Linked DNA regions of Homo sapiens: region 2 is linked to region 1. Evidence: fine-mapped expression QTL. A gene starts in region 1. The other region holds a variant in brackets. All regions are shown on one strand. Distances are between the middles of the regions. Region 1 holds the start of RNASE1 (ribonuclease A family member 1, pancreatic). Region 2 holds the start of EGILA (EGFR interacting lncRNA).

Region 1 (11,965 bases):
TGGGATTACAGCTGTGCCACCAAACCCAGCTAATTTTTTTTTTTTTTTTTTTTTTTTTTAGTAGAGACGGGGTTTCACCATTTTGTCTAGGCTGGTGTGGAACTCCTGGCCTCAAGTGATCCGCCCACCTTGGCCACCCAAAGTGTTTAGATTACAGGCGTGAGCCACTGCACCCAGGCTTGTCAGGGTTTCTTTAACATTAGTGACTCCGTTTTGATTCTGACAACTTTCACAAAACTTTCTCTTAATTGTACTTTCTTATCATCACCCAATTTTTTATATATTGTATATATTTTAATTTTTTTCTTTTGATTTCTTCTTTGACCCAAATGTTACTTAGAAAATGTTATGTTAGGCTGGGCGCAGTACTTCGCACCTATAATCCCAGCATTTTGGGAGGCTAAGGCGGGTGGATCACCTGAGGTCAGGAGTTTGAGACCAGCCTGGCCAACTTGGTGAAACTCCATCTCTACTAAAACCACAAAAATTAGCTGGGCATAGTGGTGTGTGCCTGTAGTCCCAGCTACTCAGGAGGCTGAGGCAGGAGAATCTCTTGAATCCAGGAGGTGGAGGTTACAGTGAGCCAACATCATGCCACTGCACCCCAGCCTGAGAGACAGAGCAACTCAAAAAAAAAAAAGAAAATGTTATGTTACATTTCATGTGTATATATACGCACGTGTATATATACTCACGTGTGTATATATATACACGTGTGTATATATACACACACATATATAATATAATATATATAATATAATATATATAATTTATATATGTGTGTGTATATATATACACACACATATACACACATACACACATACATACATATATGTGTATATATATAATATATATATACATATATATATAGTGGCAATGGCGCAATCTCAGCTCACTGCAACCTCTGCCTCCTGGGTTCAAGCAATTCTCCTGCCTCAGCCTCCCAAGTAACTGAGATTACAGGCATGTGCCACCACGCCCAGCTAATTTTTGTATTTTTAATAAAGACGGGGTTTTGCCATGTTGGTCAGGCTGGTCTCAAGCTCCTGACCTCAGGTGATCCACCTGCCTCGGCCTCCCAAAGTGCTGGGATTACAGGTGTGAGCCACCATACCCAGCCTGTATCTTAGTTTTAACAAAAAAGTTTAAAAATTTTTTTAAATAGAAAAAAAAAACAGATAAGCCTGAGCAACATGGTGAGACCCTGTCTCTACAAAATATACAAAACTTAGCTGGCATGGTGACACATGCCTGTAGTTCCAGCTACTCAGGAGGCTGAGGTGGGGAGGCAGAGGTTGCCGTGAGCCAAGATTGTGCCACTGCTCTCCAGCCTGGGCAAGAGAGCGAGATCCTGTCTCAAAAAAAAAAAAAAGAAGAAGAAGAAAAAAGCTATAGAATAAGGATACAAAGAAAACATTTTTGTACAGCTGTATAATGTGTTTTAAGCTACGTGTTATTATAAAAGAGTCAAAATTTTTTTTATTTAAAAATGTATAAAGTTTAAAAGTTAAAGTAAGCTAAGGTTAATTTATTATTGAAGAAAGAAAATTTTTTCATAAGTTCAGTGTGCCCTAATGATACAGTGTTTATAAAGTCTACAGTAGTGCACAGCAATGTCCTAGGCCTGCACAATCACTCACCACTCACCCACTGACTCACCCAGAGCAACTTTTAATTTTTTTTTTTTTTTTTGAGACCGAATCTTGCTCTGTCACCCAGGCTGGAGTGCAGTGGCACGATCTCGGCTCACTGCAACCTCTGCCTCCCAGGTTCAAGTGATTCTCCTGCCCCAGCCTCCTGAGTAGCTGGGATTACAGGCACATGCCACCATGCCTGGCTAATTTTTGTATTTTTAGTAGAGACGGGGTTTTGCCATGTTGTCCAGGCTGGTTTCGAACTCCTGACCTCATGATCCACCCGCCTCGGCCTCCCAAAGTGCTGGGATTACAGGCGTGAGCCACTGCACCTGGCCGTAGCTTCTAATTCTATAAGCTCCACACATAAGTGTCTTACAGAGGTGTACCATTTCTTACCTTTTATACCATATTTTTACTGTAACTTATCTATGTTTATGTACACAAATATTTACCATTGTGTTACAATTGCCTATAGTATTCAGTACAGTAAACTGCTGAACAGGTTTGTAACCTAGGAGCAATAGGTTATACCATATAGCCTAGATGTAGAGCAAGCTATACTGCCTAGTTTTAGGTAATATAGTCTGTAAGGTTCCCAACAATGATGAAGTCACTCAATGACACATTGTATCCCCATCATTCAGCAACACATGACTGTACTTGGTGTATACACTGGTTTTATACTCACTCTTTTGAGAGTCGGTTCTTGAAATCAAGTTTAGGCCTTTCTACTGTCTCTGCCTGATCTTCTGTGCTTTCTAGATCTCTGGTTATCCCCTCTCTTGGGATGATAGAATTCATACTCCTGTGAGTTCCAGTACTAATGTTCCTGGCCCCTCTTTCATCTGAGGCCCTCAAACAAACAAAAATCATATGTTGGCACCTTGAATTATAAATACAGAAAACTGTAGTGAGACATTGTCAATTCTGTCCCCAGTCTTGATTGGTTGCATGCAAGTGATAGAATAGGATGTATGATTCTTGATTCTAAGAGTAATAGCTTTTATTATGGACAGACATTGTCCTAAATATTTTTTATATGTGACCTCAACTAATCCTCAACAAATCTCTGAAGTTGATACCATGTTTATCATGATATTTTACATAGGGAACCTGATGTTAAAAAAGTTACGTTCCCTGCCTGCGGCCACACTACTCCCAAAAGGCACAGTGGAGTGTGAAACAGGTCTGTTTCACTCCAGAGCCAAGGCTCTGAAACACCATACCCCATGCCTCGGTGATAGTGGCTAACTTTCTGAGTGTCCACAGAACGCTGAACACTACGCTTTCTCTGAATGTCATCTTTACCACAGTACTTCTAATTAAGTGTTATGAATATTTCCATTTTACAGAAGTCCCACAGGCACTTGGAGTTGTTATCCTGTCTCAGGTTTTTAAAATCCAGGCTAGACCCATAAAAAATAAGCCAATCTTTGTAACTACTGCACTCCTTCCAACCTCCATTCATTCACTCCTTCTTTCACAAATGCTAGAAAAATGTTCCTTTGACTTAAGAATGTGTATGTCCAGACATTCCCTGGATTTTAAAAGGGCAGATTTTTTTTTTGGTAGAATAGTATATCCGTCTCTCTATGTTCATTAATAGTGCATTGGGAATTTCTGAATTGAACCATATTCCAAGAGTAACTGAGAACATGAACACTCATGAACCGAGAACATGAACTGAGAACATGAAAGCTCAGCTGATGGCAGGGGAGAAGTTGCAGAGGAAGCGTGAGGGCTGTTGCACACTAACTAGCTGGAGGTACACAACTGACCAAGCATGCACGAAGGCTGCCTCGCTTCACATCTTGCCAAGGGCTTTCATGCCCCTACTTTTTCTTTTCCCCTTACAGCAGCCTCAGAAGGGACGCAGGGCCAGTTCCCTAAGACCTGTTAACGGTTTCTAAAGTCCCTCCACTCCATCCAGCTGTCCCAGGAAGAAGTAGATGTTCATTTGTCCCCACAGACACTTCTATTCACCCCACAGCCACCCCATCCCCACCACCGTGGCATCTAATTTAGACCAGCCCGCCATAGGGATGTGTCAGGGCAGCTACGGATGCAATCCAAGAGAAGTGGAAGAATTGGTTAAAGGGTGTATTCATTTCCTAGGGCTGCCATAACAAAATGGGCGGCTCAAACGATAGAAATGCATTTATTTATTTATTTATTTTTTAAAATTTTGAGACAGGGTCTCATTGTTGCCCAGGCTGGAGCGCAGCCTCGACCCCCAAGGCTCAAGTGATCCTCCATCTCAGCCTCCCGAGTAGCTGGGACTATAGGTGTTTGCAACCTTGCCTGGCTAATTTTTTAATATTTTTTTGTAGAGACGGGGGTCTCACTATGTTGCCCAGGCTGCTCTTGAACTCCTGAGCTCAAGCAATCCTCCTGCCTCAGCCTCCCAAAGTGCTGGGGTTACAGGCGTGAGGCAGCATGCCCAGCCAGAAATTCATTTTCTCACTGGAGGCCAGAAGTTCAAGAACACGGTATGGCAGGTTTGGTTTCTCCTGCTTCCTCCTTCCTTGTTCTGCAGTGAGCAGGTCTATGCCAATGTACCCCCAAGGGCTGAGGGAGATGAGAGGCCAAAGAAAGGGCTTGACTGAAGTAGGAAACTAAGAAAATAACAAATAATAGCATACGTAATAATAATAAGAGAAATAACAATAGCTCATAGAATGAATTGCTGTATTAACCAAGGCTGAAAAGAATTTAAGTAGCCCCCCTGAAGTTAAAGTTAGAAGAGAATATTAACTGTCTGTCCCAAGAAACGTTAACCATATCTATCCTCCACATATTTTGTAGGCTCTGTAAACTCCTGTTTCTTTCTTCCCTGCACAGCTGCAAGGTCACAAGACAGATAAGCATAAGCTGCAAACCAAGTTCTCACAGAGATGTAAGACATGTTCCAAAAGTGTCACAGCGGCCTTTTGTTCTCACTTCTGTAAGCCTGCTTCACTTAGTTCCTGCCTCAAAATGCTTAAAAGGGACTCATTTTCTTTGTTCTTGGGCTCAGCCTTTTAGGACACAAGTCCGCTGGGCCAGTGTACACCTTAAAATAAACACCCTCCTGCACGCCATCTGGTCTCTCTGGTTCCTTAAATCCCACTTCATGACAAGTTCAGTTTCTCAGAAAGAAACATTTAATAGGGACTTACAAATAGAAGCCATGTCTCAGGCAGCCACAAGACAGTGGATCTCCGCACAGGCCCTGCAGAAAGTATTCTTTATATGGCAAGCTTCCCCACCCCCCACCCTGTGAGATGGAATCTTGCTCTGTCACTCAGGCTGGAATGCAGTGGCGCGATGTCGGCTCACTGCAACCTCTGCCTCCCAGGTTAAGTGTTGACAGATGCCAAAGGTAGTCTTTCAGTGGCTGTCAGGAAGGGTTGCCAAGAGTGGAGTGGACTCACAGGCTAAGAACACTGGGAGCCTGTGAGAGCCCACCAGCAAGCTCTGGGAGAGAGCTACCGCTCCACAGCACTTACTGAGGAGGGGAGCTTTCTTCCTGAGTTAGAGCAATGGCTTCCTGAGTTAGAACAATGGCTTGGAAGTCAGGAAACCTAGGGTGTAGTCCCGGCTGTGCCACTAACTAGCAACAAGCCATGTGCAAGTCACCGGAAAGGCAGGGGTCACATTTGGTCAGGGATGGCAAATGTGTGGCACACACACCCTTCCCCCTCTCGTGCCTTCGATAGAGGCTGTTGTTCAACCACACCACTGTCCAGAATTTTTTGCTACAGCATTTTGGGTAGGCACTTCCTTTTTTTTTTTTTTGAAACAGAGTTTCACTCTTATTGCCCAGGCTGGAGTGAAGTGGCACCATCTCAGCTCACTGCAACCTCCGCCTCCCAGGTTCAAGTGATTCTCCTGCCTCAGCCTCCCTAGTAGCTGGATTACAGGCACCTGCCACCACGCCCCACTACTTTTTGTATTTTTAGTAGAGAGGGGGTTTCACCATACTGGTCAGGCTGGTCTTGAACTCCTGACCTCAGGTGATCCACCTGCCTCAACCTCCCAAAGTGCTGGAATTATAGGTGTGAGCCACCACGCCCGACCGGCACTTCCAATTAGAGTTGGTACACAAACTGAAATCTACTTGCTATCCCTCAATTCCGTGCTCTCCAAAGTCACTTCTGGCTCTAAAATGTAAGGTTCTGGCTTTCCAACTAAGAGGTGCCCATTTTTCTGATTTAGTAATAGCTCACTCAAAAAAAAAAAAGGAAAATGGAAATTTAGGATCATAATTTCATTGAGTCCTCTTCCCCACCCTGAGGCTAAGCAGGATCTTCCTGAGGTCACACTTGCCTTCCTTCTGTGCCAGAGAATGATTGTATTTGAGCTTCACCCCTCTGTCAGTTCACCCTGCATGGCAGTGTCCCAGGCTGTAGCTCCCTTTTGTCTAAAACAGCCCACACTTAACAGTTTTATGTTTGGCATCAGGGAATCTACAAGGAAAGGAATTTTCTCAAGCCACTAAAATCCAAGTCAGAAGGGAAGGCATTTAATTACTCCATTCACCGTTCTCCAAAGTGAATCAGATTTACAGTTCTTACCCCTTGCTGGAAGGCAATGCCAGAAACAGTACCTAGACAGAACCGCTTCAGAAATCAGGTGTTTGCAACTGCGTTTTATTGAAAGAAAGAGTGGAGGGGTTAACATGGGGCCCACCTCACAACCCACTCTTCACCCCCAAAATCACGCAGGGATGGGACTCAGGAAAGGGAAGCATGTGTGTGTTGAATAGGAGCCCTAACTGTAGTTACTTCTTTCACAGCAGGGAAGGAAGAGGGAAGAGGCAGCTGTGGAGAGGATGAGGTTGAGGGAGGTGGGGTATCTCGCTGCTCTGACCTTAGGTAGAGTCCTCCACAGAAGCATCAAAGTGGACTGGCACATATGGGCTCCCTTCACAGGCCACAATGATGTGTCTCTCCTTCGGGCTGGTCCGGTATGCACAGTTGGGGTACCTGGAGCCGTTTGTCAGGCGGCAGTCTGTGATGTGCATGCTGGAGTTGCTCTTGTAGCAGTTGCCCTGCCCGTTCTTGCAGGTGACCTTTTCCTGGAAACAGACATTCTGGACATCTACCAGGGGCTCGTGCACAAAGGTGTTCACTGGTTTGCACCGCCCCTGTGTCATATTCCGGCGCCTCATCATTTGGTTACAGTAGGTGGAGCTGCTGCTGGGGGAACTGTCTGAGTCCATATGCTGCCGCTGGAATTTCTTGGCCCGGGATTCCTTGCCCAGGGAAGGCTGGACCCAGCCCAGCACCAGCAGTATCAGGACAAGCAGAAGGAGCCGGACAAGAGACTTCTCCAGAGCCATGGTGGCCTCACTTTCCCAGAAAAGCCTAATTGAGAAAAGGAGAGAGAAGGAAAAGAGCCCTCTTAGAAAAAGAACTCCAGCTCCCACCTATGGCTTGCCTGGTTTACACTTTCTGTTTCAGGTCAGCCAGAAAGACGTCCATCCTACTTCCTGAGGTTTTTCGTGTAATGAGACACTCACGTGTACCCTTTTCCACGAGCGTTTTATTCCCACTCTCCAAAGCGAGGTCTTCCTCCCCTCTAGGTGGTGACCTACAAAGTGACCTAAAATCCTGTCAGTTCCTATCTTTGAATACTGGAGTTTCTTTGATCCAAAATACATTTGTACCCAGTGCTCAAATGGCTCATCGAAACATCAGTTTGAATAAATCATGAACCAAATTGTATCCCCGACATCCAGGGCCATGGGTGACAGAGCCTTGTTGTCTTGGAGCATAAGGGAACTCAGGCCAGTGCCTGACACTGGCATCATAAAAGATTCCATTGTATTCCAGAGAGAAACGCTGGCCTCCCCCAATTTGGAGGCTCCTTCTTCTCCAGTCCCATGGATGCTCTGCAGCCTGCACGTTCCACCCTGACCCCTCTGCCCCCAGCTGATGTTTGCCTGGGCCACATTTTTTCAGCGCTAGCATCACCCAATCTTTCTCAGTGCTGTGGACTGGCCCTAGCTCCCTCTTCTGCAACCCTGAAGCAGAAGCGGCACCTGAGAACACCTCTTGGGCTGCTTACCTGGATCTGCAGCTTGGTGTCTGAGAGAGATGGAAGGCCAGTTTCTGCAATCACTCAGCTCCCGGGGTGTGGACCTTATACAGATTACAAAGGGGTTTGGCTTCCAAGAGGAAAAGGGTGGGAGGAGCATCTGGAGCTCAGTTCAAATAAAATCAAGGACGTGAGGAAGGAGTGGTGAATCACCCAGGCCGCCGTCTTTCTAGGGCTGCTGAAGAAAGAGCAAATCTTTGCCTACGTTAGTCTTTCTTCCTATGTGAACCACATCTGTCTGCTGATGCACAAGGAGCAGCAGAGAAAGCCACTACAGCACTGGTGCCCAAACCTGGCACACTAGGAACAAAGTCCTTGTTACTTCTTCGTGGGCGTTTTCACCAAGTAGACTTGGAGGTTAACAAAGGACGCAAAGGAGAGGTTCTAATGGGAGATAGGGAATTCTGGCCAAAGCTATTCCAGGGCTCCTAGGGAGCAAAACCCAAGTCTCTTTCTAGGAGGGCATTCTCCCAACGCTACCTCTCCCGGGGATGGGAGGCGGGGTCGGGGGGAATGGAGGCTGTCCTGCTGCCCCCAGCTGGAAGGCTTCCCAGATCTGGAGAAGAAAGGGGGAGTAACTGAATAGGGAGGAGGAGGAGGCCTCTAGGGTGCGCTCACCCAGTTCTGGCCACTTCCCACCCACCCTCCACCCCTGCTCTGGGGGCATCGAGAGGATGGGGCTGTTCTTATCTACAGTAACCACTGACCCTGTAGGTCGGAATTGAGTAGAGGAACTAAAGATAAACTTAAATCCCAAATCTCAAATTCTTTTTGGGGAAAAAATACAAAGAATATCATATTTATTAGCAGCAGAATGCCCTCCTAGAAAGAGACCTGTTTTTTTGCTGAGTAACAATTTGGATACCTCTAAGAATTATCAAAATATCCCTTCGTGCTGTGTATTCAGATTGTTTCAGCCTTTCTGTGTAAAAAGTGGCCATAGTGAAATTATCTGACCTACCTTGTGTGATTGTAGGTCGTAAGATCCTCATTCCAGAGAGGGTCCTGCCCCCCATACCCAGAAAAAAAGGACGAATGCTCAGAGAGGCCAAGAAGAATCTAGACAGGGAGGCCTTGCTGGGTTTCCCCACTCAGTCTATTTTCATTAGATCGCCCTGTTGTCCAGTCATATTTCTACACAGCTGTTCATACTTTGTTGATATCCAAGTGTAAGAATGCCCACTTTCCCCTGTTATCTTTGGGTCTTCTGAAGGCTCCCGTGTCGTGTAAAACTACGATCAAATCAATTTGTATGCGTTTTTTCCTATCAATCTGTCTTTTGTCAGTTGATTTTCAGCAAACCTTTGGAGGGTGAAAGGGGAATTTTTCCTTGGCCCCTACAGTTTCCTTACTCCCCCAGCCCCCACCTGTATTTTATTTTTCTGAGTCTTTAATAATACTTTTATTCTCTTGAATAGTCAAGTTAGAATGTGTTCATTCATTCATTAGACTGTGGGATACAGACATAAATAAGGCACAGGACTCACCTGAAGGGCGCCTGGTGGGATGGTTTGGTTAGTCAGGTGGACCCCACTAAGGCACTGGGCGTGGCTGCACAAAAGTGGCCTCCACCCAGCAAGATGATTTCAGAACCACAGTTCAGATGTGAACAGATCTTCTGTAACTATAATAAGGCTCTTCAACAGCCCCTGGCCCTAGGAATCCTGAAACTACAGGAAGCCATTTTGTCTATTTATGCATAGCAATCTAGACAAGCCCTTGGAGCTTTAATTGCACTTCAATGGGGAACCATCAGAAGCCCTTACTGCAGCCTTATCCTTGACCCAGTTGCAGAGGCATAGCCCCGCTTGTCTTAGGGCAGTAGATGCCATGGCAACATTTGTTGTTGCTTCTGCTGAACTTGTTCTAGACTCCCTGCTTGACCTCCTGGTTTCTCACGCAGCACAGGCATTACACCTGACTGAGAACTCACTGCACACTTCAGGCAGCCGATTAACCTCTTATAAGATTCTATCCCTCTCTCCCTCTCATAAATTACTACTCATCTCTGCAACACACTGAATTCTGCCACCCTCTGTCCCTACCAGAAGGGGAGCCTCTTGATTGTCTTACCTCAGTAGGAAACATTCTGCATGTCAGTCAGATTTATTAGCAACTCCTATTGAGAACCCGGACCTAATATGATTTATTGATGGAACATACCCCAGAATTGAAACTTGAAGTTAGTACACTGAGGAAAGAAAAATCAATTCTTCCTTTACCCTCCTAGAGGGCTGGGGGCCCTGTAAATTAAAATGACAAAAGACAGATTTAACAGGAGAAAAGGCATAAAAATTTAATTTAATATTAATATTCTACATGAATATGGAAGTCTTCATAAAAAAAGAAGTGAAGACTCAAAGAAGCAATTAAACCTGAGAGTTTATAGGCCATTTTGACAAAGAAAATTGTGCAGAAGTGACAAGACAGTGTTCCATGAAAGGGCCACATATGTGAAGTGGCCCCAAATGCTGAAGGAGCCTAGAAACTAAAGAAAGGCAGACAAATTCAGTTTGTCAGTAAAGCGTGTTTTATTCTATTGGGGAACTTATAGCCAGAAGTGTCGTCTTGGGCAGCAGCAAGACATGTAAATCTCAGCACTGTTATTCCCCAGACCCAGAGCTTATATACCATAGGGAAAAGGGGTACGTGCTATATAGAGACAATGAAAGGCAACTCTTCAGAACAGGCAAGAATGCTGTGTTTGTCATAGCCCATAATTTGCATGATAACGTTAAGGTTGTTTTGATCTAAAGGCAGGATTTATAGTGAATACATGTTTCTACACTAGAGACAGTAAATAAAGTAGAAATCAGGAGGCATTCCCGGGACATGGTTAATCAGACGTCAACATGGTAGATTAGCATTCAAGATGGAGTCACTTTTGTCTCTGCACATAGGAAAGGGATTTTGAGCTTCTGGGGAGGTTGCGACAAGCGGACTAGGAAATGTATAGTATATAAGGGTTGTTTAGTAAAGTTTGTTAAGCAAATTCAAGTTGGTTGTCTTCTCCATTGATAAGTCCTCCGTGATTAAGTCCTCCTCTTCCTGGCACAGGAAAGGGAGACATCCATACAAATGGGAATATAAATGGAAATTTCTCTTACAAAAGGGAAACTTGGCTAGGCATAGTGGCTCACTCCTGTAATCCCAGCCCTGTGGGAGGCCAAGGCAGGCAGATTGCTTGAGTTTAGGAGTTTGAGACCAGCCTGGGCAAGGTGGCGAAACCCTTTTTCTACAAAATATACAAAACTAGCCATGCATGGTGGCATGCTCCTGTAGTCTCAGCTACTCAGGGGGATGAGGTGGAAGAACACTGGAGATGGAGGCTGCAGTGAGTCGTGATTGTACCACTGTACTCCAGCCTGGGTGACAGAGAGAGACACTGTTTAAAAAAAAAAAAAGGACATTTATAGTTCTTTCACAGCAGGGAAGGAAGAGGGGAGAGGCAGCTGTGGAAATGATGAGCCCTGTTTTTTGAGTTTTTCCTGCATTTACTGTTTTTCAAAATAATCAACTCAAAATTATTGAGCTGGCATATTCTGGTTCCCTACATTATTAATAGGCTATGCTACCCCTATTTTAAACTCTTCTTAAGAAAAAGTCTACTACCTGCAGTAAAATCAGCCCAGATAGCAAAATGTATTGCATTTACTAGAATTTGTCACCTAAACAAAGACCAGAGAGCAAACATATATACAGACTGCAGGTATGCTTTTGAAATAGCATATGATTTTGAGATGCTTTGAAAATAGGCATTAGAAGACCAGGCATGGTGGCTCGTACCTGTAATCCCAGCACTTTGGGAGGCTGAGGCGGGTGGATCACCTGAGGTTGGGAGTTCGAGACCAACCTGACCAGCATGGAGAAACCCTGTCTCTATTAAACATACAAAATTAGCCGGGCATGGTGGCACATGCCTGTAATCCCAGCCACTCAGGAAGGCTGAGGCAGGAGAATCGCTTGAACCCAGGAGGCAGAGGTTGCGGTGAGCCGAGATCGTGCCATTGTACTCCAGCCTGGGCAACAAGAGCAAAAACTCCGTCTCAAAAAGAAAAGAAAAGAAAAGAAAATAGGCATTAGAAATGGACAGCAAGTTAAGGAACTTTCAGATGCACCCCCACTTCCTAGAGAAGTGGCTATTATATAGGTAGAGGTCCATATAAAAAGAGACAATATGGAAACTAAAGGAAATTCTCTAGCAGATCATTATGCCAAAGAAGCTACTTTAACCAAGCTTATGACTC
Region 2 (15,823 bases), 90 kb before region 1:
TGCCTGCAGCCCGGGATTCCTCCTAAGCCATGTCCCATCTGTGCGGGACCCCACTGGAAACCGGACTGTCCAACTCGCCCAGCAGCCACTCCCAGAGCCCCTGGAATTCTGGCCCAAGGCTCTCTGACTGACTCCTTCCCAGATCTTCTTGGCTTAGTGGCTGAAGACTGACGTGGCTCAATTATCTCAGAAGCCTCCTGGACCATCACAGATGCTTTCGGTAACTCTTACAGTGGAGGGTAAGTCCATCCCCTTCTTGATCAATATGGAGGCCACCCACTCCACATTACCTTCTTTTCAAGGGCCTGTTTCTCTTGCCTCCATAACTGTTGTGCATATTGATGGCCAGGCTTTTAAAACTCCCCAACTCTGGTGCCAACTTGGACAACATTTTTTATGCACTCCTTTTTAGTTATCCCCACCTGCCCACCTCCCTTATTAGGTTGAGACATTTTAACTAAATTATCTGCTTCCCTGACTATTCCTGGGCTACAGTCACACCTATTCCCACCCTTTTCCCCAGTTCACATACTCCTCTTCTGTCTCCCTACCTTAATCCACAAGTATAGGATACCTGTGCTCCTTCCTTGGTGACCGATCATGCACCCCTTACCATCCCTTTAAAACCTAATCACCCTTACTCCTCTCAATGCCAGTATGCCATCCCACAACAGGCTTTGAGGGGACTAAAGCCTGTTATCACTTGCCTGTTACAGCATGGCCTTTTAAAGCCTACAAGCTCTCCTTACAATTCTCCCATTTTACTTGTCCAAAAACTGGACAAGCCTTACAGGTTAGTTCAGGATCTGCACCTTATCAACCAAATTGTTTTGCCTATCCACTCTGTGGTGCCCAACCCGTACACCCTTTTGTCCTCAATAAATTCCTCCACAGCTCACTATTCTGTTCTTGATCTTAAAGATGCTTTTTTCACTATTCCCCTGCACCTGTCATCCCAGCCTCTCTTTGCTTTTACCTGGACTGATCCTGACACCCATCAGCCTCAGCAACTTACCTGGGCTGTACTGCCACAAGGCTTCAGGGACAGCCCCCATTACTTCAGTCAAGCCCTTTCTCATGATCTACTTTCTTTCTGTCCATCTGCTTCTCACCTTATTCAATATTTTGATGACCTTCTACTTTATAGCCCCTCCTACAAATCTTCTCAACGGGACACCCTCCTGTTCCTCCAATATCTGTTCTCAAAAGGATATCATGTATCCCCCTCCAAAGCCCAAATTTCTTCCTCATCTGTTACCTATCTCAGCATAATTCTTCATGAAAACACACGTGCTCTCCTTGCTGATTGTGTCCAGCTGATCTCTCAAACCCCAGTCCCCACCACCAAACAACAACTCCTTTCCTTCTTAGGCACTGTTGGATATTTCCGATTCTGGATATCAGGCGTCGCTATCCTGACGAAACCACTTTACAAGCTCAGAAAGGGCAACTTAACTGATCCCATGGACCCTAAGTCTTTTCCCCATTCTTCTTTTCACTCTCTCAAAAACGCCCTGGAGACCGCTTCCACACTAGCACTCCCCGACTCGTCCCATTCTTTTTCCTTACACACAGCTGAAATACAAGGCTGTGCTGCCAGAGTCCTCACACAGGAGCCAGGCCCGTGACCTGCTGCCTTTCTATCAAAACAACTTGACCTCCCAATTCTGGGGTGGCCCTCATGTGTGCATGCAGCAGCAGCCACAGCTTTAATACTTCTGGAAGCCCTCAAAATTACAAGCTATGCTCCACTTACTCTCTACTGTTCCTGTAACTTTCCAAATCTATTCTCCTCCTCACGCTTGACACGTATACTTTCTGTGCCCCAGCTCCTTCAACTGTACTCACTATTTGTTGAGTCTCCCACAATTACCATTGTTCCTAGTCCAGACTTCAATCCAGCCTCTCATCTTATTCCTGATACTGCATCTGAGCCCCATGACTGTATCCCTCTAATCCACGTGGCATTCTCCCCTTTTCCCCATATTTTCCTCTTTCCTGTTCCCTACCCAGACCACACTTGGTTTATTGATGGTAGTTCTTCCAGGTCCAATCGCCAATCACTGGCAAAGGCAGGCTATGCTATAGTATCTTCCACATCTATCATTGAGGCTACAGGCCTGCCCCCTTCTGCTACCTCTCAACAAGCTGAAATCATTGCCTTAACTCGAGCCCTCATTCTTGCAAAGGAACTACGTGTCAATATCTATACCAATTCCAGGTATGCCTTCCACATCCTTCACCACCATGCTGTTATATGGGCAGAAAGAAGTTTCCTCACTACACAAGGGTCCTCCATCATTAATGCCTCCTTAATAAAACCTCTTCTTAAAGCTGCTCTACTTCCAAGAAAACTGAGGCCATTCACTGTAAAGGCCAACAAAAGGCATCAGATCCCATCACTCAGGGCAATGCTTATGCTAATAAGGTAGCTAAACAAGCAGCTGGCGTTTCAACTTCTGTCCCTCATGGCCAGTTTTTCTCTTTCTCATCTTTTCACTTTACATTTCCAGTTTCGCCTTACACAAGGTCTCTTCTTCCCCTGTGGCTCCTCCCCTACATGTGTCTACCTGTTAATTAGACAGGCACATGCACACTAGTTTTCCTTACCCCCAAAAATCAACTTGCAAATGGGACCCAAGAGCTTCCTGTTCCCCTCATGACACCAACACTTCACTACTATTTTGTTTTGTTTTTCTTATTATTAATATAAGAAGACAGGAATATGCCCTTGACTTACTCACTGCTGAAAAAGGGGGACTCTGTATATTTTTAAATGAAGAGTGTTGTTTCTACCAAAATCACTCTGGCCTAGTATATGACAACATAAAAAAAACTCAAGGATAGCGCCCAAAAACTCACCAACCAAGCAAATAATTATGCTGAACCCCCTTAGGCACTCTCTAATTGGATGTCCTGAGCCCTCCCAATTTTTAGTCCTTTAATACATGCTTTTCTCCTTCTCTTATTTAGACCTTGTGTCTTCTGATCAGTTTCTCAATTCATACAAAACTGCATTCAGGCCATCATCAATCATTCTGTATGACAAATGCTCCTTCTAACAACCCCACAATATCACCCTTGATGCCCAAATCTTTCTTCAGTTTAATCTCTCCCACCCTAGGTTCCCATGCTGCCCCTAATCCCACTTGAAGCAGCCCTGAGAAACATTGCCCATTATCTCTCCATACCACCCCCCAAAATTTTTGCCGCTCCAACACCTCACCACTATTTTGTTTTGTTTTTCTTATTAATATAAGAAGACAGGAAATGTCAGACCTCTGAGCCCAAGCCTGCAAGTATACATCCAGATGGCCTGAAGCAACTGAAGAACCACAAAAGAAGTGAAAATAGCCAGTTCCTGCCTTAACTGATGACATTCCACCATTGTGATTTGTTCCTGCCCCACCTTAACTGATCAATTAACCTTGTGACATTCCTTCTCCTAGACAATGAGTCTCAGAACCTCCCCACTGAGCACCTTGTAACCCCTGCCCCTGCCTGCAAGAGAATAACCCACTTTGACTGTAATTTTCCACTACCTACCCAAATCTTATAAAACTGCCCCACCCCATCTCCCTTTGCTGACTCCTTTTTCGGACTCAGTCTGCCTGCACCCAGGTGATTAAAAAGCTTTATAGCTCACACAAAGCCTGTTTGGTGGTCTCTTCACATGGACGCACATGACAGGAGCAGAGATATATGAAGATGCTAGCTGCTTAAGAAGGGAAGTGTGAGTGTGTGTGTGTGTGTGTGTGTGTGTGTGTGTGCACATGTTTAAGGGCAAAACTGACAAAACTGAAAACATTTGAATTACAGCAGATACAGAAAGAAATCTTACCTGAACTTCTCTCACCTGACTAAAGCAGAGCCTCCCAGAAATGCCCCCACCATTATCTCCCTCCGGAGGGGTCCTCATGTAATGGTAATAGGTCTTTTGCCTGATGTGCACAGCATGTCAATATGCCAAGACACTGGGTTGCAGCAGAGAAAGAGGTTTAATTGCAGGGCTGCTGAACCAAAAGATGGAAGGAAACCTCAAATCCATTTCCTCAAAGAGTTTGAGGCTGTTGTTTTTAAGGATTTGGAGTAGGTGGAAATAAGAGATCACTAATTGGTTGAAGAATGCAGAGTGAAGTCATGGGACAGAGAGATGAAAAAACAGTATTCTCATGCTGATCAGTTCATCAGTTGGGCTCTTTAAAGTTGGTGGTGTCAGCTGTTCTGCCGGAATTCAGGATCTGCATAAACAATTCTTAAACAAAAGCCTTATGATTCTAATGTCAAAGATCTTATCTATGGGAACAATGAGAATGCAAATTATCAGTAGCTAGTGTTCGTGAGTTTTGGTTACAAGGAAGTGGGTCAAAGTGTAGCCTGATTAACACTTACTCATAATTATATTTTTGTCCAGGATTCTTGTTAACCGTGTGAGGATTACTTCACCCAGACAGGAGATATTCCAAGAAAATTGTGTAAAACTTTATCCAAAGCTTCTATTTGTCTTTCCCAAAAGTCATTTGTTTTCCTATAGAAGTCATTTCTCCCTCCTTCTTTTCCCCTATGAGTTGATAACTAAACTTCTGTCTCTAGCTCTTCATCAAGCCTCTTCATCTGAATGCTTCCACAAGTTATGAATACAACTTGTTTTCTTTCCCCCTGCTAACCTGTCTATAGTTAATTCACAGGCTCCCACCCACTGAACCAAAGTTGGTAGAGGGAAAGTTTTCCCTCCTAATAGCATGTCTGTGTATATTTAGAGTGAGAAAGAAGGATGAAGAGATAATTCGTCTTTGTCACCATCCAGGTAGTCATGGGAGTTGGGACCTGTGGTATAATAAAAAATAAATTTGAACTTAGTTCCTGGTTCCTGCCACAGACCTTCTAAAATGCTTGGAATTTCCTGAGTGATAGTGTAACCAAACTAAGGGTCAGCTGATCACTGCTCACTGCTCAAAAGCAAGACTTGCAAGACAAGAGTTGGTGCAGGAAAAGCAGGTTTATTCAAGAGCTAGCAACCTGAGGAGATGGTGGACTAGCGCCTCAAAGACTATTTCAAAATTTTAGGCTAGCTAAAGGGATTTTAAGAAGTAGGAGGCATGGAAACTATGAGCAGGAGTGGTGCAGGGTGCAGGTTTGCATGTCTTACTCTGATGGCTATCTTCAGTAACGGATCACCTGGAGGTCTGGCTGGCATCACCATGACTGCAACTAGCTTATGGATTAACCCCCCTCAGTGATTTTTCTGAGAATGTAGGATTCCACAATCTCAAATTCATGCCCGGTTTATTTCAAGATTAGCCCCTGGGTTTCTTAAGCAAGGATACGGCTAGATACTGAATAAATCAAAGGGTGAGGCTATTCATTATTGAAGCAGGCTGATTATTCCAGCTACAAACTCCCCACTGCCAATTCCTGTTTCATTTCTATGGGAGATCAGGTGTCAATTTCTTTCTAGCTACTTCCTGCTGAATGAGGGCATCACTAGGGAGCTGAAGAATGGAATTTATTTACCTGGAGTTGGAAGTATTCATGCATTCCTTGACTTATGGAAGTGATTTTTTACAGCATCATTGACCTGGGAGTTAGGAGCCTTTCCAATTAAGGAAAACACAATCTTGCAATATCACACATATGGTGCAACAAGAGTATAACCCATAGAGAATATACCTATTCCTATAATCATAGCTGGAACTACTAGCAGTTTTTTCCACCAAGTAGGTCCGTATCCAAACCATGAAGATAACCACTGGTTTAGGAACATTGTGGGGTCAGACATAGCATTGATTTGTCTGTGCACGTCTTGAAGGGCTAAGGAGATGTTTCGCAAATTACCTAGGATATACACAAAACATTTAGTTTCAATTATGGGTCAAGGTCCCTCCCAGCAGCTGTGAGTACATCAAGGGCCATGTGGTTTTGCAAGACTACTTTTCCCATCATAGTCATTTCAGAGGTTACTAATGAGATGCCCTTAAATGTGTCTTTCAGCACTTGCTATAATTTGTAAGTGCCTCAATATGCCAGATGATGCTTTCTAAGCCTGCTTGGGGGAAAACAAGGGACAGGAGATGGTCGTAGGAAGGGAAAACCGGCCTGGTCCATTGGTGTAACACATCTGGAAAGTGTGCAGGCTGCCTGGTGGTTTTTGTTAATCAGCCCCGGACCTATGGGGGTCCTAACGTGCACTGCCCTATCCATCCATCAGGTAGACATGGCCGAAGATTAGTTTCACATAACTATTGAGTTCCACTGGGGACCAGCCACCAAATTTTGGGTCTGTGTCCAATCAGTGGTAAACAGGTTTGTCTAATATAGCACTAAAGAATGTTCATATTGATGTAGAGGCATCCTATCCACATTTTTAGTAACATTCGGCCAATGATTCTAAGAGTGATTCCTTTGTTCCCAACATGAAGTGGCAATTTGGGTTAAGTGACTAATAGTGGAGATCATCCAGAGGTAATCGTCCCAAATTTGATAAAAACTCACCTACCGTGTAATGGTTATTAGTAGCCAAAATCTTGGGGGCCATCTAGGAAAACTCCTTTAAGAGAGGGATTGCATACTCAGAGGTCCTTTGGATAGTCCGGTTATAATGAAGAGTTTTCCAGGATCTGGATTCTGAAGCGTTATATTAATGCCAGGCCATTTTTAAAAAATATTACCTTAAGTTACCAAGGTCCTGATTTTCCCATGAACAGTTTTTCATATACGTTTGTAAATGTATCTAATCAGTCCCCTGCAGGGGTGATACTCACTAAAGTAGCCCAGAAGTGCTAGAGATGGGTAGCAATCCACATACCCAGCAAGCATCTTAGTGTAGACTATCTGCATAATGTTATGCCCACTGTAGAAATAGACTAGTTTTAGCAGATGTCAAAAAAGTTTACTCATTATGATAAAGAATAACAGAAATTTAATCCTATAGTACAAAAAGATTTTTCTTAAGCAGTAGCTTCAGTTCTCCAGTTGGCTCACAAGTCCAACCAGGTTGATTGTCTGCTGTGTCAGGTTGGGGAGGGGCGATTTTTACCGAAATGTGATGTATGCGTGGTTTGACTCCAGCCAGCTTAACAGATGAATGAGTAGTTAATAAAACATCATAATGACCTGTCCACTTTTTGGCTGGCTGTTGTTGGTCCAGTCCTTGTTTTTACCAAGATTTTAGCGGCACTTTATCCTTGGATGAAAAGGGTGAAGGGGCTTTTTTGTAAGACACATAAAACTGGAAAGAACAAAAAGAACAAACTTGTGCAGGGTTAGTGATTTATGTCTTAGTTGTTGTACATATTGTTTAATTCTTGATTAATTTATTAAGTCCAAGGGTGGGGTCCCTGGCCAAGAACTTCAGAAGGGTCTCCCACACACAATTTCAAAAAGGCTTAATTTAAGCCCACTTCAGGGTGCTACCCCAATCCATAGCAGGGCAATAGGTAAAACCCTTTACCATTTTAAATCTGTTTCCCGATAGAGTTTTGCCAGGGGTTTTTTTTGGTTTTTTTGTTTGTTTGTTTTGTTTTGTTTTTGTTTTTGTTTTTGTTTTTTAGCATGTGGATCATCTTTTCAGTCTTTCCAGTTGATTGTGGCCTCCAACAAGAGTGTCATTTCCATTTGATCTGTAATGCTTGGCTTATCCTTTGTGTGATCTCAGAAATTAAAGAAGGATTATTGTTGCTTGGTATGGAGTAAGGAAGTCCAAATCGAGGAATGATTTCTTTTAGCAGAGCCTTAGCTACTTCTGCAGCTTTCTCAGACTTGTTCGGATAGGCTTCAATCTCTTGCTCGGGTAAGCTTCAACCTTTCCAGAAAATGTGTCTACAAACACTAGTAGGTACTTATAAATCCCAGTGTTTTTGGCATCTGGGTGAAATCAACCTGCCAGTCCTCGAATGGTCATATTCCTTTGTATTGTATCCTCCTCTGGGAAGAGTTGCATGCAGTTCTTGAATCATTTGGGGTA[T/C]ATAGATAACATGCTTGTATAATCTTTTGAATGATCTTTTGAAGGTGTGGCCCTTTGAGATATGGCTACACCAGGTGAGCCAGTCCATCTCTGCCATAGTGTGTCCCCTCATGCAGGTCTTTCAGGACTGGGTATACCAGGGCCTCAGAGAGTAATATCCCATGAGTGTTAGCTTTCCATGAGGAACAAGGGTCTGTGTTGGTCAATGTCCACTCATGTGTGCATTCTTCATTTCATTCAGTGTAGTGGAGTTTAAATTCTGACAAGTTTAAATGGAGTATTAAGGTCCCAAGTAAATATGTTTCTTGAGTGGCCTGCTTTGCAGCTTTATCAGCCACTTGATTCCCTTTGGTTATTGGGGAGTCATCCTTTTGGTGGCCTTGGCAGTGCATAATAGCAACTTGAGTTGGCAGAACAACTGCCTCTGACAAAGCTAAAATTTCCAGCAGGTGTTTAATGTCTTTATTTCTTGAGGTTAAGAATCCCCTTTCTTTCTGAATGACCCCACGGGCATACACTACCAAGAAGGCATACTTGGAGTAGGTGTAAATGTTTACCCATTTCTCTTGAGACTGTTTTAAGGCCCTGATGAGAGCAATCCATTCAGCTTTTTGTGCTGAAGTACCAGCAGCGGGGACATAGGCTTCTACTACTTTGTCTAGGGTCACTGGAGCATACCTGGCCTGGCGTTGTCCTCCTTCTGTGAAACTGCTTCAGTCAGTGTATAGCTCCCAGTCCGGAGTGGCCATCAGATGATCTGACAGATCTGGTCTGCTGGAATAGACTGCATCAAGAATTTCTAAACAATTATGCTCCAGTTCATAGTTGGACTCAGTGGCTGGGAGCAAGGTGGCAGGATTCAAGACTGTGGTGGTTTGGAGAAAACATTTCTGTTATCTAATAGGCTGGCTTGGTATTTGCCCATATGCCCCGCTATCATCCAGTAACCTCCCTTTTGTTACAATAAGGTTAACACTTGATAAGGCACAAATGCAGTAATGGGCTGTCCTAGGGTGAATTTTTCTGCTTCCTGTAAGATATCACACGTAGCTGCCACGGCCTGAAGACAAGGTGGCCATCCTCTGGTAATCTGCTCCAGTTGTTTGGGAAAGTAGGCTATGGGTTGTGGGGAATTCCCACGTAGTTGAATTAGTATTTCCTGTCCTGTGCCCTGGTTTTCATGGATATAGAGTCTAAATAGCTTTCAAGAATTGGGCAGTCCTAATGCTGGAGCTGACACTATTTTTTTTTTTTTTTTTGATGGTATCAAATGCCTGAAGGCATTCAGCCATCCAGTTTAGGGCTCCTGAATCTAATCCCTTTAGAGCCTTGTAGAGAGGTTTGACTATGAGTCCAAAATTAGGGATTCAGATTCAGCAGAAACCTGCCACACCTAAAACCCCCCACAGTGTCTTCCATTCCCAGGGGCCTTTATTGCTGCTATCACCTGTTTCTGGTTGGACATCAAGCTCTGCTTTCCTTGTTTTTAGTCAGAAGCCAAGATAGGTCACTTCTTGTTTACAAATCTGAGTTTTCTGAGGTGATATGTTACGTCCGTATTATATCAAATAATTTAAGATTAAGATAGTGTTAGATAGGCACCTCTCATAGTCTTGGCTTGCGATTAACAAGTCATCCAAGTATTTTAGCAGAACCCCATCATCTAGTTGAAAATCTCTGAAGCCCTTTGCCAATATTTTGCCAAAGATGGTGGGTGAGTTTTTAAAACCTTAAGAAAATACAGCCTAACAATATTGGAAGGTGTTTTTTGTTTCCAGGTCTTGCCACTCAAAGGTGAACAGCATCTGGTCCCTCTCTTCAATCAGGATGCAAAAAAAAAAAAAAAAAAAAAAGTATCTTTTAAGTCTAATACCGAAAACTACCCATACTGCCCTGGTTTATCAGTTAGTAAGGTGTAAAGGATGGGCATAGTTGGGTGAATGTCTTGAACAATGTCATTAATGGTTCCCAAATCTTGTACAAATCAATATTCATTTGAGTGTGGGTTTTTAACAGTCAGGATAGGGGCATTGTATGGAGATCTGTAAGGACATATTTGTCCATTTTTTAGAAACTTCTGTAATATAGGTTGTATCCCCTCTAAAGCCTCTCTTTTTAGAGGGCACTGTGTTTGGGGAATACCTTAGCCCCTTCATTTATTTCTGTGCACACAGGCTGTGTATTTTCAGCACTACCTGTGGTCCCATCTGCCCTCATGACTACTTACTTGCTCACAGATTGCTGGCAGGAGGCATTCTTTTTCTTCCTCGGGGTGTGTGAGCAGCATCTGCAGCTGCAAAGCTTGCTCTGGCAGGACCTGCAGATGAAGTTGTTGTTTTTCTGGAGAAAAACGTCACATGGCAATTTAGTTTACAAAGCAAATCTCACTCCAGCAAAGGAATTTGGTATTCCAGCATATAGAGGAAACTGTGTCTCAGCTCCAGATCTCTGTGTCCGGCAGTCTCCAGACTCTCCAGGGTCTGGAGAAAGGCTGTTTGCTGCATCTTGCCAGCGACAACCATCACAGGCACTGTTTTCCTAGTACTTTCAGTTTCTTTAGTGTTTCTACCTGAATAAGTCACACCAGTATTGATTAAAAAGTCAATCAATTTGTTCCCCATTGTCAATCGTACCTGAGGTTCCTGTGGGGAAATTACAACCTGCTCCAAAAGATTTGGGCCTCCTTCACTATCTGAGCTACAGTCCTGCTTTACCATCAGCCAGTATGTTTCTTCTCTGTCACTGTGTCTCCCTTCTTCTGGTTTCCCTGTCTTTTCTTTAATTTGGGGCACTCAGATTTCCAATGACCTTCCTCCTTGCAGGGGGCAGACTGATCATTACCTAGAGTTTTGTTCTGGCCACCTCCCTGTGCCTGGTTTTTCCTTTTCGGATATACATTCTTTCCACTAATTCCAAGTATATCATGGCTTGCTTTAGCTTTTTGGCCTTCCTGGCATTATATACTCTGAAGGCAATGTCCAGCAGTTGGGAAAGGTTTATTCCAAATACCCCCTCCAGTTTCTGCAGTTTTCGTTTAATATTGGATGAAAGTCACGTTTACCATTCTCATATTCTCAGGAGCTTCTGGATCATAGTCCATACACTTGTGGTAAACCTGGTAAATGCACTCCAGAAATTCACAGGGGTTCTCATCTGCCTTTGGGAGAACTGCCCTGGCTTTATTTAAGCTCTTTTACATTCTTCTCTTTAACCCTGCCAACACATGCTTTTTATAATGACTGGACAGGGCCATTCCTCCATTGTTGGGGTCCCAAGTAAAATCTGCAAGTGGAGCAGCCATTTCTATTCCTTCCCCATCCTGGGGAGAGGAGCTGACACCTTGGCCTCTCCGGGTCCTGGGCTACATTTGGTAATCCTGGGAGGGCTGGTGCCCCCAGTACCACATGGGAGGGGAAATTTAAGATATTTATGAGGCCCATATCATCAATATCCTCTTCCTTTTGGGTCTTACTATCTGGAAAGAGAAATCTCTTTTTCCCTTTTCTCTACGTCATTCACATAGACCCCTCATGTGCTGAGTCTTTGTTATGTAATAAATGCTTAAACACATGGAATCTCATTTCATTTCCCAGATCTTAGGCAAAATAACGCCAACTGTAATAAGGTGTACTAATGTAAATCACTGTTCAGTAGCCACCATTTTTCAGATTCCAACACATACATAGGCCAAACAGTGTTACAATGAAAAAAAATCATTATCTTTTTTGTTATGAGTTCATAGCTATAAGCTTTCCAATAAGCCAATATACAGCCCAATGGCCACTTAGATGGAATGGAAGTCAAGTTGCCCATTCTCAGGGGAGAGATCAAAAGAACACAAACACACAGATCAACACAGAGTACTCCTGAACCAATTCCTGTAGAAGGAGACTGGGAAGTTAATAAATCTTAGGCTAACTGATACTGCAAAAGACCTGTGTCAGGTCCAAATGGCATAAAGCCCAAATGGCAGAGACAGAGGATTTCTAGCATGCAAACTGGTTTGATTTACCCAGTCTTGAATCCTGTCAACTTCCTCAACTATCATTTTCCTTATACTAATAAAGCATTGCAGGCAGCTGATGCCACAGAGGGGGAAGGAGGGAAAAGATGTTCTTGGCAGCTGCTGGGACAACCCTAGAATCCCAGCTGGGAGGTCAGCTAGCCACGAGCAGCTAATCCTCATGAGAAGTTGTTGCTCTGCCTGGTAGCATGAATGAGTAAGCCCTGGCATGATGCCACAGCCAATTGCTCCATCCATCGGAAACCAGGCACGCTAGACCAGTAGAGACATATAGCCCCATGCTGGGTGATAAAAAATGTAACCAAACTGTTGGAAGTAAGTGCTCGGTGCCACAGAGTGAAAATAGCACTCAGGCAAAAATTTTCTCAGCAAAGCAATTTACTTCTATAGAAGGGTGCATCTCTCAGATGGAGCAATGGTGAGAGCACACCAGACAAGGGAGGAGAAGGGCGTCTTATTCCTAATGCAGCTAGTCCCTACTGCTGTGTCTTTCCCCTGTTGGCTAGGGTTGGACCACACAGTCTAAGCTAATTCCAGTTGGAAATTTTAAAGAGAGTGAGTGTATGAGCTGGAGTGGTGGGGTGAGTAGTTTCATCAGGGAAGGACAGTTACAGAACAGGAGAGTAAGGATGCCTAAGGACAGAACAGGTGATAGAGGCTAGGAGGGGGTTGTTTACTGAAACTAGAGGCAAGGAGGTGTAAAGAACAAGGAAGTTAAACTTCAAAATGGAGAACAAAGAACAGGGAAGCTGAACATACTGACGTATTTGTTCTTTGAAGAGGAACTCAGAACTCATTGTACTTAAATGATTTTTTTCTCCCTCTTGAATTTTTTTTTTTTTTTGAGATGGAGTCTTGCTCTGTCACCCAGGCTGGAGTGCAGTGGTGCAATCTAGGCTCACTGCAAGCTCCGCCTCCTGGGTTCACGCCATTCTCCTGCCTCAGCCTCCTGAGTAGCTGGGATTACAGGCACCCGCCACCACGCCCGGCTGATTTTTTTGTATTTTTTAGTAGAGACAGGGTTTCACCATGTTAGCCAGGATGGTCTCAATCTCCTGACCTCATGTTCTGCCTGCCTTGGCCTCCCAAAGTGCTGGGATTACAGGCATGAGCCACCACGCCCAGCCACCATCTTGAATTTTAAAGGAAGTTAACAGGCTAACTCTGAAGAGGAATTTACTGTATCCTACAATCTCCCCCCTTTCAATTTTCATAGGCCTTCCTCTTCAAACCTTTTTAACATGTCTTGGCTTTGCTGCTTGACTTGATCCTCTAAAAGAAGAAAGCTTTTCTGAATAAGGTGGAGGAAAGTTAAGGGAGGTTTTAGTAGGTGCTGTTTCTTTGCACTGCCCCACGGACGCATGGTATGACACAATACCCAACAAGAATGAGTACACCTATTACGGCTGCAAGAGAAGTAAGAATCGAGGCTATGATCTTTTCCATCTACTGAACCACCTTTCTAGCCATCCTGAGAAAGGGTTATTGACTCCAGAATCTTTAACTAATTCATTGGATAAAGCAGTAAGTCCTTGTAAGACCCTTGTTATGCTCCCAGTGGGGGCAGTGTTGCTTGGGATAAAGGTACAGCCCTGAGTTTTAATCATAACACCAACACTGCCTTTTTCAGCTAATATCACATCTAGGGCCATTCTGTTTTCCCAGGCCATCTGGCTAGTGGGCCCCAATTGTTCTGCTATCCCTTTGACAGCATCCCTGGTGTAATTAATAAACCACTGCTAATTATAATAGACGTAATTTATCCAATCTATGTTTTTATTAATTGTCACCCACAAAATCCTGCAGCTATTTAATCTTGACTCAAATCCTGCAGCTATTTAATCTTGATCTTTAAATTTATCTGGTACTCCTCATGGGACTCCAATTGCATCTAAATAAATGTGGGAGTTGAAAGACCCATAAGGAGCTTCCCTTGTTTTATGATGTTGTATTTTTCCTCTCTCTGGTTGATGAAATGCTAGGGTGGAAGGGATAGCCAATTAAACTAGAGCACAAGTGCTGCTCCAGTTACTTGGCAGAGAGTCCAGTAAAGGTCCACCACAATACCACCATACATATGCTTGGGGATGAACAAGGGCTGACTGATTGGTAAGCTCTTGGAAAGTCTTAAGCTCACTGCATCTTTTTAGGTCTCCAAGGAATGCTAAGTTTCCTCCCTGTAGTGAGAGATATGAAGTGAACTTAGCGTCAGGGGACAGAAGCTGAGTGGACCTTGGGGGCTGACCTGCAGGGTATTGAACCTCAGGATATAGCAGAGAGAGCTTGACACGACTTTTTACCCCAGGCTGTGTAATCCTGGAAAAAAGTAACCATACAGCCCATGCCTAGTAGACTAAAGGACTATCCTAATGGAAAGGGGACAATCTGGGCTTCTGGTCTGCCGTGCGCACAAGCATAACAAATGCTTTTGTTTAAAGTGTGGATGGAATGTTTGATCCACTCCAACCAGGCATTAGCATCTTGATATTCTGTCTCAATTGCCAAAGTTTGTTTTAGGTCTTTAACTTCTATAATAACTACCTTGGTCTTGTCATTAGATGGAGGAGAACAACAGTTTTGTTGTGAGAGCTTCTGGAAGAAGGCTTAAGGGAAGGTGTAGGCGGCAGAGGATCAATGAATTGTGTTTCAAAGGATCTGATAGGGTCTGTTCCTGAAACCTCAGCCCCCACACCATAAAACCGGCTTAAAGAAGGGAACCGGCTTAGAGAAGGGGAAGAGCTTTGAGGGTTTGAGATAATAACCTGTATTGGATTGCACGGTTCAGCTGACAGCTAGGTGAAGCTGTTCCTTTAGTAAAGTGAATATATGACTTTAGGAAATTACAACCACTGGTTGGGGCAGCTCATCCTTGCTCTTTAGTGGTCCACAGAATGTTGGACCAACTGTGGCATAAAAGCTCTGTCTTGCAGGAGCAAGACTCCCAGCTGATACTGGGGTCTTTATTGAAATCTCTCCAGACTAAATGATCCCCATTCACTAATGTCCAGTCTGAGGAGAGCCGGGAAGGACAGAGGTACTTTTCTGAATTGGAGAGCTGTCTTTAACTTGACAAGTCTCCACAAGGTATAACAAGGCAAGCATCAAATGTAATAGTTTGAGGTGAAATTGACTTTGTTACATTAATAATGAGGTGGTCAGCAATAGAATGAGGAAAGAAGAAGGAGTAATAAGAGAGTTAAATTTTTCTTAGCTTGGCTCACGCCTGTAATCCCAGCACTTTGGGAGGTCGAGACAGGTGGATCGTTTGAGGTCAGGAGTTCAAGACCAGCCTGGCCAACATGGTGAAACCCCATCTCTACTAAAAGTACAAAAATTATACAGGCGTAGTGGTACACGCCTGTAATCCCAGCTACTCGGAAGGCTGAGGCGGGAGAATTGCTCGAACCCGGGAGGTGGAGGTTGCAGTGAGTGAAGATCGCACCACTGCACTCCAGCCTGGGCAACAGAGCAAGACTCTGTCTCAAAAAAAAAAAAAATTTCTTAGCTTTAGTTTGGTAGGGTTTTCCCCTGGGACTATGGCCCACGACTCTGGAGGGGGCGGCACTTTCTTGACTTGGGTGTGATAGGTCCATCCTTTTTCTGCTGTCTGGACTGCGCTTTCAGTAGTTAGGAGCACTAGATAAGGTCCTTCCCAGGCCAGTTCCAGCTTTTCCTCCTTCTAGTTTTTGATGAGGACTTGATCCCCGGGCTGATTTCGATGTACTGGGAACTCCAGGGATGGTGCCTGTGCTAAAAGACCTTTAGTTCTAAGGGAAGAGAAAGTGGAAGATAAACCAAGTATATAATGTCTGAGAAACTGATCTTTTGTTTCGAAG

Evidence for each region. PIP is the estimated chance that this variant, and not a neighbour inherited with it, causes the effect.
Region 2: its variant is fine-mapped to the expression of RNASE1 in whole blood (INTERVAL, PIP 0.94).

Annotation. Positions count from the first base shown.
Region 1 is chr14:20,795,109-20,807,073 of GRCh38, forward strand. RNASE1 (ribonuclease A family member 1, pancreatic) reads right to left here and starts at 7,736. Exons shown (of 2, transcript NM_002933.5): 1 at 7,689-7,736; 2 at 6,120-6,985. The coding sequence starts at 6,960. The coding sequence ends at 6,490. LOC107984671 (a long non-coding RNA gene) reads right to left here and starts at 5,421. Exons shown (of 3, transcript XR_001750624.2): 1 at 4,796-5,421. The region is part of intron 3 of LOC105370397 (a long non-coding RNA gene); the gene reads left to right.
Region 2 is chr14:20,702,891-20,718,713 of GRCh38, forward strand. EGILA (EGFR interacting lncRNA) reads right to left here and starts at 4,051. Exons shown (of 4, transcript NR_174964.1): 1 at 3,857-4,051. It overlaps LOC124903282 (a long non-coding RNA gene), which reads right to left and starts at 12,833. Exons shown (of 2, transcript XR_007064061.1): 1 at 10,191-12,833; 2 at 6,903-8,828. The variant T/C (reference allele first, on the strand shown) is at 7,964.